Homo sapiens: one gene and its partner. The protein of the gene in region 1 purifies or fractionates together with the protein of each later gene. This does not show direct contact. Each region holds a gene or a part of one and is shown on either strand. Other genes may lie near its edges.

Evidence for each region. Proteins that work in one complex are often made in the same cells at the same time.
Region 2: the proteins of CPSF4L (region 1) and FIP1L1 purify together in Homo sapiens (affinity purification with mass spectrometry; 3 studies listed by BioGRID and IntAct, with this or other methods). This does not show direct contact.

Annotation. Positions count from the first base shown.
Region 1 is NC_000017.11:73,251,867-73,255,519, reverse strand, and holds part of CPSF4L (putative cleavage and polyadenylation specificity factor subunit 4-like protein), read left to right. Parts: intron 1-1,493; coding exon 1,494-1,589; intron 1,590-2,796; coding exon 2,797-2,890; intron 2,891-3,653.
Region 2 is NC_000004.12:53,391,097-53,394,749, forward strand, and holds part of FIP1L1 (pre-mRNA 3'-end-processing factor FIP1), read left to right. Parts: coding exon 1-43; intron 44-333; coding exon 334-402; intron 403-3,653.

The DNA of each region.
Region 1 (3,653 bases):
TTTTCTTTTTTTGGAGACAGAGTCTCGCACTGTTGCCCAGGCTGGAATGGAATGGCACAATCTCGACTCACTGCAACCTCTGCCTCCCAGGTTCAAGCGATTCTCCCACCACAGCCTCCTGAATAACTGGGACTACAGGCACGTGCCACCATACCTGGCTAATTTTTGTATTTTTAGTAGAGATGGGGTTTCACCATGTTGGCCAGTCTGGTCTCAAACTCCTGACCTCAGGTGATCCTAAGGATCACCACCTCGGCTTCACAAAGTGCTGGGATTACAGGCATGAGCCACTGTGCCTGGCCTAGGGGTACTTTCCTTTAGGCGAAACCTTGCTCTGTAGAGGCCCAGTGTATAAAATAGATCTTCCTGGAGCAATTTGAAAATCAGTGGAATAGACGCTACGACGCTCCTTCAGCTCTGAAAAGCACTGAGCTGTAGACATTTAAGGAGGATGAAGTTGGAAAGATTCATGAGTTCTCAACTTGAATGAAGTGAAAGTGGGATGAATCTTCCCCCATGCTTCCTTCAGAGCTTTCTTCCTAAGAGAAATCTAAGAGAGCTCTTAAAATGACACCTGGGTCCGGGCGTGGTGGCTCACACCTGTAATCCCAGCACTTTGGGAAGCCAAGGTGGGCGGATCACGAGGTCAGGAGTTCAAGACCAGCCTGGCCAACATGGTGAAACCCCATCTCTACTAAAATACAAAAAATTAGCCATGCGTGGTGGCACATGCCTGTAATCCCAGCTACTTGGGAGGTTGAAGCAGGAGAATTGCTTGAACCCGGGAGGCGGAGGTTGCAGTGAGCTAAGATTGCGCCATTGCACTCCAGCCTGGGCAACAGAGTAAAACCCTGTCTCAAAATAATAATAATAATAATGACACTTGGGTAGCCTGGGCCTACTGGGCTGGCTCCCTGTAGGAAATAAACTAAACCTGAGACTTGGTCTAATCCATAGAGAGATGATGACGCAGGCTTAGTATAATGCAGGTGCCCACTCTGTAGAATGTTTCTTTTCATACCTGTGCCACCTTGAGCAGGGCTCTGCTTTTCTTTGCATTTCCACCAAGGGGAACAGCTTCCCTAGGCTCTGCAGGCAGCATGGGTTTTGTAGTAGAGATGAAGAGGGGGCTGCAGTTACAGCGACATGGAAATATCTCCACTTAACGTCGCAGGCCTTCTCGGCTCTCCTTGTTCCTGCTAGCCTCTAATGGCCTTCAGTTCCAGTGCCTCCTTCTCCATCTGGGGTCCCTCACTCTTACTCTTCCAGAGGTGTATATTCAGACCATGCCCTGCTTAGCAAATAGGACTGGGATCCACCCTTTTTAGACTGCAGCAAGGATTAGGCATACTTTCCATCTTCAAAAAGCTGGTGACTCCCAGAATAAAGGCCAGTGTCTTCTGTGTTTGTGAGGGGCAAGGTCAATCTGGTTTGGGGACACAGAAGTGATCACAAAGAGAAACTGCTTCTACAGAGAGTGCTGGGATTTTCAGGTGACTGCAGCAACAAGGAGTGTTCCTTCCTCCATGTGAAGCCAGCTTTCAAGTCCCAGGACTGTCCTTGGTATGACCAAGGTTTCTGCAAGGACGGTGAGGCCTTGGAAGCCAGGGAGCCCTAGGGGCTGTGGGGATCAGGGTGGGAGCTCTCAGCAGGGGAGGGGCCATTTTCCTGATGAGGCTGTGCCTTGGAGAAACCCCAAATAGAAGGCCTTTCTGTAGTTCTCCTCCAGCTCTGCTGTGACACACAAAACACAGCCTGGTGTGGGGCCATAACAGGCTTGAGGCAGACTGACTTGGGTTCAAATCCTACCTTCAGCATGTATCAGCTGCATGCCTTTCTCCAAGTTACTGAACCACACAGGAAGCTCTTGACACAGGGTCAGGCCCATAGGAGACGCTTAGTTCATGTGTGCTCTCTTCCGCATTCCACTTACCCACCTGGGGGGTCCTGAGTGTTGCTTAAGCATGTCCTACCTTTCCCATTGCTGCCAGCCAAATTTAAGAGGCAGCTTACCCCAGCAGGGTTCCCATGCCCTAAGCAACAGGGTTTCTCCCTCTCCTTTGTCTTCAGATAGGTTTTTCTTACGGAGTTCTTAGTGCTGTTGGTTTTAGGGATCTGGGCGGGGGTGAGGGCTGCTGAGAAGATCAGTAGGATTGTGGGGTTAGCTTTTTTCTTTCTATCACCCAGGTTGGAGTGCAGTGGTGCGATCTTGGCTCACTGCAACCTCCACCTCCCAGGTTCAAGCAATTCTCCTGCCTCGGCCTCCCAAGTAGCTGGGGTTACAGGTGTGTGCCACCATGCCCAGCTAATTTTTGTATTTTTAGTAGAGACAGGGTCTCACCATGTGGCCCAGGCTGGTCTCGAACTCCTGGGCTGAAGTGATCCACCCACCTTGGCCTCCCAAATGCTGGGATTACAGGTGTGAGCCACCCCACCCGGCCAGGTCAGCTTTTTCTCAGCTGTACCTCCCATACTTAAATAAATAAAAGGCAACAAAGTGTGGTTCATATCCATGCAGTCCTCCAGGACACAGCATGTCAGTGACATTTCCAACTCTATTTCAGAACTTGCCAGCTGACACCTGCTCCAGCACATTCCAAGGTTCCTTTTCCCCATCCCTGTCTCATGGCTAGAAGTGGATGCTTTAGGGTGGTACAGAAAGGATGGGAAGATTTATCCACCCCTATTAAGTGAAGCCCCTATGACCATCCACACCCTTCCTAGGGAGCTTTTTCATGTGTGTTTTCCCCTCTTGCTGAAGCGGATCCTTCTCATCACTTTCTCTTTGCTCAGCAGGTCCTCTGTGTAAATACCGCCATGTCCCCAGAATAATGTGTCTCAACTATTTAGTTGGCTTCTGCCCCGAGGGACCCAAGTGCCAATTTGCTCAGTAAGTATGATCCCTCAGTTACCAACTCCCACCAGAGTGCTAGGCCTGGCCTTCTAGTTCTAGATCTTTCCATACCTTCGCTGGTCCTTAGTGGAAAATGAAGCATCTGGCAAGCATCCGCTCCAGTATTTTCCTGGCACCACTGCCTGACCCTGGCAATCTCAGAACTCTAACCCATCCTCTTAATGTGTATTCATGCTGGGGATAGGTGTCGATCTTTTCACAAACTGTTCTAGTAATAAGAGAAGAAACACTTAATGCCCATTTCTCCCCAGTCCTCTGTAATTCTCCCTCACGCCCTGGCTAAGGGAGGGCAACTTCCCTACAGGGTTCTGAAATATGAAATCTGCAGCAGGCTGGCGCAGAGCATGTTAATGAGCAGAAGATGGGAGGGCGAGAGCTGGGCTGTAATCGTCTCTCTCTCCACTTCCCTTAGTCCCAAGATGAATCTTTTACTCAACCCGAGTTACATGAAGGTGAGTGCAGGCAGGCACGTGCCGTCATCCCTCATCCCTTTATTCCCACTCCTTTCTGCTCCCCAGGGAAGCTCACCCAGCAGCACTGCATGGTTCCCAGCGAACCCTCACTCTCCTTTGAAAGGCATGTCATCATGCATGTGGGACACATATATGTGGTTGTTCCTCCCAGACTACTCTCCAACCTCTAGAATCTCTGCTGTGGGTAGGGTAGGACTTCTCTGTTGACCAGTCCAAGGCTTTCCTTCTGCTAGCTGGGTAGCACGCATGGTTTTTGGAATCAGGGC
Region 2 (3,653 bases), on another chromosome or scaffold:
ACTTGAAGTTATACCAGTAACCTCTACTACAAATAAAATTACGGTAATTAATAAATACTCCGGAATACCCTTGGCTTGTCTACCGTCCCACTTTTACTCCCCAAATAAATCGCTTCCCTATAAAAGTGGTTAAATGCTATATGATAGTTTAAAAATTCCATTTTGTTTACCATGTTTGTTTTTCCCTTCCCTCCCTTTTAGAGTTTCGTATTTAATGATTATCTGATGTTCTTACTTTCAAATCACAGACTAGCCACAGCTAGTTTGTCTTTATATGGCCTATTAATTAAATATTATGTGGTATCTTAATGGGGAATATGTTATTTAACTTAGGCCGAAGACTGTACTATGGAAGTTACACCAGGTGCAGAGATCCAAGATGGCAGATTCAATCTTTTTAAGGTGAATTTTAGTAAATTATCCTTGGTTGCTCTCATTTTTTGTTCTTGAGTCTGCTCCCATGCCACTACTCAAGGGACAAGATTAAAGTGGAAATAGCTACCTTTTTTCCAAACCTTCAGCTTCCTGGTGACTTACAAATTTGCTGATTGTTGTTTTATCTCCACTTTTGCAAGCATGTGAATTTATAGCCTATTATACTAACAAATGCCGAGTAAAACTATTGTTTGCTATATGTTGTGATTTCATTTTGAGTCGTAATACATGTTTGTAGGATAGAAAAGTTAGTGGCAACAGATTATGCTCTCATTGTAGATAATACTCTAATCTTTATCAACAGAATTGGAAACTTTTTTGTTCTCTTTAAAAAAATGGTAAGGAAGGTGGCATACTGTTTATCTCTATGACACTTATAACACTGATATCATTGGTGTAATGCCCTGATAGCTCAAGATATCTTCAAAAATCTTAGGCATTCTCTGAGAGGCTTTAAGAACTCAACATAATGAGATACTGCCATTGATTTTAAAAATTTGTTCTTAAAAGGAGTAGGTTTATGTGAGAGACTTTGAGGTTGATACTACAACTTGTATAACAAGTCTGATTTCTGGCTTCTCCATTCCATGGTATGATCACAGACCCAGTCCAAAGAATAATACTATATTGTCATAGTTCTTTTATGGAAAACTGATTGTGTACTCTTTTTTCTTTACCTTAATAGTTGACTCTTATATTGAATGACACTGGGATGAAGATTGGGAGTGGCTTTTAGATTGGGTTGTATACTCAGGGAACTTTAGTGGACTGGAAAGAGACCACTGCTCCCCTTTTGGGTTTGCAGCCCTGTCCACCAGAATACTGCCTTATGCAGTGTGTGTGCTATGTCTGCAGATACAACCACTCTACTGTACACAGTTCTATATAGATAATTTTATTTTAATTTACATCCTACTTTGCGTAAGTATTTGGTTCTTCTTTTGCAAATATTTTGAAAGTATGTGATGATGTCTGTTGTGTTTTAAAGGGTCATCAGTTTTTTCTGGGTTATATTGTCTATATAGGCATTGAATATATTAAACTTGACTGCAATGGGTAGAAAAGTTGTCTTAATGAACTAGTTCATTAGCAGCAGTGCATTTTATTTTCTTTTAATAGAAATGAGAACTGCCATCATAAACTGTTAGCTTCTGTATACTTCATTTTTTGTAGTAGACTTAAAAAGAGAATAAAAAGAAACTCCTAGGGGTCAGTCTCATTGAAGGTAGCCGTTATGAATGTGTATTTTATATACATACTGTGTACTGAAAAATTTATTTTGAAGTTTCTTTTGGCTATGTGAGAGGAGGTCATAGAGTATTCCATTCTGATTGGATTCTGAATGAAAGATTTTAATTCGATGGGTACAGTCTTCATGGTTTTCTTGCCTTGATAGTGTGTTTAAATACTAATATGTTTGGTAGAAATACTGATTTGGGAATAGGGTGTGTATTAAGAATATGTGTGGCAAACATTTTTTCTTTATGTATATTGTGGTCCGTAGGAAATGGTGGAAATAGGGCCATGATGAGCAGGACATTGATTTTAAACTAACCTGCAAACATTTGTGTAGCCAATAGGAAGCTGTTTGAAAGTTCCTGAGCAGTAGAATGAAGTGGCAGATCTGGTATTTAGAAAAGGAACTGGCAGCAGGATGGGCTGTAGAATGAAAGGGGTGTGAAACAGATAGGGAGCTGTTGCCATACTATGGGACTAAAATGAACTAGGGCCTGAACTCACTTATGAGGATGAATGGGCAAAGGAGTGGATTTAAGAATTAAAATTTATTTTCATATCTGCTGCAAATAGAATTTTTTCATCCTTAAGTGTGAGACAGCCCATCAGCCTCTTTAAGATAACTTTATTTACTTTTCATTAAACAATTTGCAAACCCAGTAACAAGTAGAATAGTACACATGAACCCTTAGGTGCTTATCATACAGCTTCAACACTTAACAGTGTTTTGACATTCTTGAGGTAACAGCCTTTTATGTACTTCAATATGAATAAAGTTTTTTTAAAAAGCAAAATAAAAGAAATTTAATAGGTATAAAAATAAAGCCACTCAATTGGGTACAAAAACAATTGTGTAATTATTTAATTAGAGTGAATGGCAAGAGAGAAGTGACTAGTGGGAATAGATAACATGTATGTATGAGAAAACGTTGACTACAACGTTTTCTTAAAATATTTTTTATTCATTTGTGCACATATGCATAGATTTTCCCCCCGGCCCCCCCCCCCCCCCCCGCCCCCGGCTGTGAATGTATGAGCTTTGTCACCAGTTTTCTGAAATTTTACAGTTATGTGTCTTGGTCTGTTTTCATCCATTGTACCAAGCATTCTCGATTTGGAAGCACATATCCTTCACTTATGGAACACTTTCTTCTTTTACTTTTTTCTCTGCTTTCTTTTCTATTCTAGATAATATTGGATATCTTCGAATGGTCTTCTAATTTTTTTTATTGTTTTTCTCTTTTTCATCTTTTCCATTATCTGGGAGAATTTTTTATTCTTATAATGTTATTGTACTTAGTTTTCATTTCTGTTGTTAATTTCCAAGAAAATTTTTCTTTATTATTTAGTTGTAGCATCTTATTATTCATGCCTACAGTAATGCAATATCTTTTTCCCTCCTCTCTCAAAGGATATTAATGATAGGCTGTTTTGTTTCTGTTAGATTTTTCTTTTCCTGCATAGTCTGTTTTCAACTTGATTATTTAAGTTAGTTATTTTTATCTTCTGACTTAGACTTTTCTGAAATGTTTGTTGATTGTTGGCCATTCACTCATGTAACGGTGGGCTGCTAAAATTGATTGGAAGCTCTGTACATCTGAATAGAACTTGCTTGACTGCAGGCTTCACTGGAGGGCTGTTTTTTCACATTCCCTGATGTCAGTATTTTTAGGTGTTTTTCTTTTTGTGGTAATCAGATTTTTTCAGATAAGGTATTCCAGTATTCTATCTAGAGGGTATATACTTGGCTGATGCAAATGTTCTGGTAGCTGGAGCTTTTAATTTCTGAATTTTTGAGGGTCCTGACATGATAATCATTGTCTTTGCTTTCTCATCGCTGACTTAGGATTCAGTTTTCTTTGGTCTGCTCAGTCAGTTACTATTTTTTAATCTAATTTCAAAGTTCTAAATTTTGTTGCTTTCTCAGTTTTTTTCTTATAGGTTGAAACAAAATTGTGATAATTTATTTATGGTTGTCTGTT